Regions from separate parts of the Homo sapiens genome. Here region 2 is linked to region 1. The links come from fine-mapping of genetic effects on gene expression. Tissue or cell type: whole blood. Region 1 holds a variant in brackets; the other region holds the start of a gene. All regions are shown on one strand. Distances are from middle to middle.

Evidence for each region.
Region 2: it holds the start of MFSD1, and the variant in region 1 is fine-mapped to the expression of MFSD1 in whole blood (TOPMed, PIP above 0.99).

What each region holds. Positions count from the first base shown.
Region 1 is chr3:158,826,663-158,829,695 of GRCh38, forward strand. It overlaps MFSD1 (major facilitator superfamily domain containing 1), which reads left to right. Exons shown (of 16, transcript NM_022736.4): 15 at 618-675; 16 at 2,317-3,033. The coding sequence ends at 2,320. Among named protein-coding and RNA genes, the nearest start is that of MFSD1, 26 kb to the left of the region's middle. The variant C/T (reference allele first, on the strand shown) is at 1,364.
Region 2 is chr3:158,800,600-158,803,099 of GRCh38, forward strand. MFSD1 (major facilitator superfamily domain containing 1) reads left to right here and starts at 1,455. Exons shown (of 16, transcript NM_022736.4): 1 at 1,455-1,716. The coding sequence starts at 1,554.

The sequences.
Region 1 (3,033 bases):
TTTTTTTTCTTTTCTTTTTTTCTTTGACAGAGTCTCACTCTGTCACCCAGGCTGGAGTGCAGTGGTGCGATCCCAGCTCACTGCAGCCTCAACCTCCCAGGATCAAGTGATCCTCCCACTTTAGCCTCCCAAACAGCTGGGACTATAGGTGTATGCCACCACAGCCAGCTAATTTTAAAATTTTTTCTAGATATGGGGTCCCCCTATGTTGCCCAGGCTGGTTTCAAACTCCTGAGCTCAAGCAATCCTCCCGCCTTAGCCTGGGATTTACAGGCGTGAGCTACCACACCTGTTCATTTCCTTTAATTTCTCTTAATTTTCACTATTATTGAATATTAATACAGTGTCCTAAGTAACAACACTTGAAGCAATACATAAGTCCAAACTTAAAAAAATGCTTAAATTAAGGGGTGATTATTTATATCACACAAGAATTTCATTTTTTCCCTTTGGGAAGGTTCCAGTAGATAAACCATTACTTTTTCATCGTCGATAGCTTTTTCTATTACTTAAAATACAGTGTATCTATGCAAATGGTTGCATGTATGTATGTATGGTTGAAATTTACTTACTGATAATACTTATATGGAAAAGATCTATGTTTATTTGTGTTTTAGGTGGGAACCTAAATTATTCTGCAAGACAAAGGGAAGAAATAAAATTTTCCCATACTGAGTAAGTATTAAAAGGGTAAAAAGTTGTCTTTATTTTTGAAATCTTAAATATGAGCATTTCGTTTCAAGGTTTGGGCTTTGAAGTTTTTTTTTTTTTTTTTGATTCCCATGCTTGTCGTCCAGGCTGGAGTGTAGTGGCATGGTCACAGCTCACTGAAGCCTCAACTTCCTCAGCTCAGGCAATCCTCCCATCTCAGCCTCCCAAGTAGCTGGGACTACAGTTGTGTGTCAACATGTCTGGCTAATTTTTTGTATTTTTAGTAGAGATGGGGTTTTGCCATGTTGCCCAGGCTGGTCTAGAACTCCTGGGCTCAAGTGATCTGCCTGCATCGGCCTCCCAAAGTGCTGGGATTACAGATGTGAGCCACTGCGCCTGGCCTGGGCTTTGAACTTCTAAGAGATTAGTTTTCCTTGAGTTTTGAGAGCTAGCTATTATGTGTGTGGAACTATTATAACAACATTCTTGTTTGCTTCAGAAAATTTAAAAATGGATATTAAGGCTTGAAACGAAGAAAAAAAATAATTCAATTTAAGTTGTTCTCTGTGAGACAGAGAGAGACACAGAGAGAGAGAGAGGGGGAGAGAGAGAGAGAGAGAGAGAGAGAGGGGGAGAGAGAGAGAGAGAGAGAGAGAGAGAGAGAGACAGAGATCGATCTATATTACTTGTAATTTATTGGAGGAAAGGCCTT[C/T]GTCCTGAGGTCCTGGACTGGGCTTACCCTTCCATTCTCTCAGATATTTTCTTTTTCTTAAGTAGTTGATAATTTTTCATCTTCTTCTGGTACCAATATGTGGTTCTGTGTTCTCTGATTCATTTGGAAGAGATTTAAGTATATAGCATGGTGATTAAGTTAACATTTCTTTTTCTAAAAGTATGTACTGAAACATAATAGTGATTCTGTTTCCTGTTATTTCTAATATTTTTAGACATTGAAGTTTTTATGATTTTAAACATTTATTTGTAAATATATATACCATGTGATTGTAATTGTTGTGACTTTTGACTAGGTTAAAATCTGGTAGAACAGTCTGTTTTTTTGAGATGGGGGTGGTTTTGGTCATATTAAATTCACTTTTAACAAATACATCTTAAAATAATCAGAAGTATGAGTTTTGAATATCTTTATGATAGTCATATTATGTTAAAAGTTTGGAAACAACATAAATGTCTTAGAGTAGGGAAAATGGTTAAATATATCATGACACATCCATGTGATATGTTGTTAAAACCATGTTTTAGAAGGATTTTTAATGTCATAGATGCTTAACATGCCGTATGCTAAGTAAACAAAAGATAAAAATGCAAATATAATATCCTAATTTTATTCAAGAAAAAGTATGCTGTCACATGCTTGTTTTAAACCCAATTACTTATGTATAATAGAAAATATACTACTAGAAATAACCTCATATTAATTGAAACCTCAGAATATTAATTAAAAACTCAGAATATTTTTCAAATTTTCTACATTGATCTTTTGTGACTTTTAGGATCAAGAAGAGTTAAAAAATTGCTCAGAAAAAAAATGTGTAGCTTAGTATTTGCTATTACATGTCTTGTAATGCTTGGTTTTCATTTTATAAGGCAGGTGAGCTTCATGTTTTTTTCTTCCTCTTTGGTAATTTATTGCGTTATGTTTTGCAGATGAGAAGTTAAAATGAATGTGTCATGAGAATGGGCTTAACACATCGTTGGTTTGAAAACTTCCATTTTTAAAAATTTAGAGTTTAGTCATTAGAAAAAATAATGGACTGGAAAGTTATATTTATATCCAAATATACCTATTTCAAAGTGTATTTGTGAGGCCTGTTTTAGCCTGTGTCTTTTGTATTGTGTGTTGCTAAAGAATTCTACTTTTAGTAGGCTAATCAACAATGAAAGGGTTAGAAAATTGCTGTGGAACATCCAGGTGAACTTCAGGAAAGACAGTGAAAAATGGAAAACGTTGGAGCTTCTGTTGAGATAATCTTCATTAGGTATATATCTTAGGGATACAGCCTTTTCTTTATCTTATAGCAGGAAAAAAAAACTTTTGAGGGAAATAGAAGGGCTGCGTTACACAAAATAAACAATGGCATTGTCATAGGCCTTCCTTTTACTAGTAGGGCATAATGCTAGGGAATATGTGAAGATGTTTTTATGAAGTCTCTTTCTGATCACGAACAATAGCTTGCGCTCTACTCTGTAGTTATGTGGATTGCCGAGCAATGACCCTTTTCAATTTCTTATTTCTGTGTTACTGAGGACCCTAATCACTTAGGGATGTAATTTTATAGTATAAACTTTCTGTACAGTTTTTCTTATAGTCTAATAAGTAAAAAGTGTCCTTCAAATTATGATAATTGCCTATGTACATGGATA
Region 2 (2,500 bases), 26 kb before region 1:
TCAATTGATAGAAGTTGAGTAAGATGACAGAGAAGTGACTAATGTATTTGGAAAGATGGAGTTATTACTCCTCTCGGCAAGACAGTTTTATTAGATCGGGAGCTCCTCCACTGGAGCTGAAGAGAGAATGGACTGTGAAAGTGGAGATATGTATAGACATCTCAAAGGCAGCACCTGATCCTTGACACTCTCTCCTACCTCCTTCTCTCTCTAAATTTTGATCTCTATTGGCGGCCCAAGCTAGAAATCTGGGAGACACTCTCAAGTCTTTCCTCTCTTTCAGATCGCATAGGCTATTATTTACAGTTATTCCCATTTTACCTCCTAAATAATTACTGATTTTCTTCTGTGCCATTCCTGCTTTTTATTGCTAACAGGCCCTCGTCATCTCTAATCGTTACGACTGCAGCATCTTCCTAATAATCCTCACAGTTTTCAGCCTCTAGCTTTGACGCCCTCAAAATTCTGTTAGTAAAGCCTGAGGGCTCCCAGAAAGCGACGATGGTGCTGTGCTGGCAGACCGAATGTTTTTTAAAACACAAAGCTTGCAGTCCTGCTGCTGTGCTCAAAATCCTTGCATGGCTCTTCTTGAAACAGGTTTAGTGTTTCTACTCGAGTTCCTTCTCTGTCGTTCAACACAAACACATACACACCCAGTTCTGTTTCACGCTTTTGTCTTTATTATCCCTCGTAACTGCCCGCCCTGCAACCAACCCGCTCAAACAAGCACCCTGACTGGCGCATTCTTACTCATTCTAGCCTGGGTTTCAACTTCAAGGAGCTTCAGCGCCCCTCACTCCCTTGCCCTGAAAGCTGGCTAAACTACGCACCTTTTCTCCCCTTTTGAAATGACCTTTCCAGATATTTCTATGGAATTCAGTGCCATTTTCTGCCGCTGTTCTCACCACATTCATTCATCATGTTTAGTTTTAAAAGTACCAGATTCTGTCGATTTCTCCAACTGAACTCTGAAATCTTTGAGGTCAGGGAGCTTGCCTCATTCTATTTTGTATTCCCAGTACGTGACACATGGCTGGACACACCAGAAATTGTCCGATCAAGTTTGTGGGTATTAAGAGTGGTCAAAGACGCTGGGGAGGGCAGTGCTGGGAGAAGGGCAGCGCGCGTCTTGGCGACCCCAGCGCAGTTCGAACTACTCCGGAGTCTGGTGTGGAGCCGAGAGGGAGCCCCGCACTTTTCTCCCCGCGGAGCTGCGCTGAGTCTGAAATAGGTGTACGCGTCAGCGGGGCAGGAAACGGAAAGACAGTGCAGTAATTGGTGGAAAGCTGGAAGTGGGCACCTCGAGGGCCTCAGCCCCACGAACACAGTCACCCAGGAAAAGCGAACCGCGCCAGGCCCTGTCATCGACCGCTGGGTCCGTCCTCCCAGCGCTCGCGGCCGCTCACATGGGCGTGGCCCTGCGTGACCTGCCGGGGCGTCACGTGAGCTCCCGGAGTCATGTGACCGCCGTCTTGACAGTGTTCCACGGGCGCTGCTTCCTGCCTGGGTTTGGAGTTGTCACCACTTTCCCCTCTCCGTCTCCTGCGGGCGCAATGGAGGAGGAGGATGAGGAAGCGCGGGCGCTCCTGGCAGGCGGCCCTGACGAGGCCGACAGAGGTGCCCCGGCCGCCCCTGGAGCCCTGCCGGCCCTCTGCGACCCCAGTCGCCTGGCGCACCGGCTTTTGGTGCTGTTACTGATGTGCTTCCTTGGCTTTGGTGAGCCGGCCGGGTGGGTTGGGGCTGATCTTTAAGGAATTCCCGACTTTCTCTTCGAGGTAGATCGTCATCGTGGTCACTGGTGCCACGGGGCCTCAGCGCAGCTTCTGTCTTAAGCTCCTGGGCCTCCTTATTTTCCCCTTTGCGATCGATTCCAGCCACACCTGTGGATGTTGCTAGTTACTCCGCGTCCGGAACGTGGAGGTCGAGGGACTGAGCTGGGCGAGTTTTGTGGCACTCCTTTGCTCTTCAGTAAGTCCCAGGGGCTAGCGACTCGCCCTAGAGGCGATAGATATGAAGGTAACTCCAGATTTTCAAGGTTCCTCTTTTGGCACACGTGGTCGGAGGAAATTCAGAAAGCTTTAACTGTTCCTAAACAACTTTTGTTTGTTTGGTTTTAGGTGAGACAGGGGCTTGCTCTGTCACCCAGCCCGGAGTGCAGTGTTGTGAAAGTGGCTTACTGCAGCCTCCACCTCCTGGGTTCAAGCAATCCTCCCGCCTCAGCCTCCCGAGTAGCTGGGACCACAGATGGGGCGCCACCACACCCGGCTTTATTATTATTATTATTTTTAGACACAGGGTCTTACAATGTTGTCCAGCTTTTAAAAAACGTGAATGATTTCGTCGGCAGTCTTCTATATATTTTTCACCCTCTTTGAGAAAATGTATGAGTGTGTCTTGCTGATAGCTTCAGTGAATAGATATTGTTCTCTTAATCTTCCACTCTGCCACTGTGAAGCAATCATATTGGACGGGACTTGTGGTAGTCTTGACAGTGGTTGGT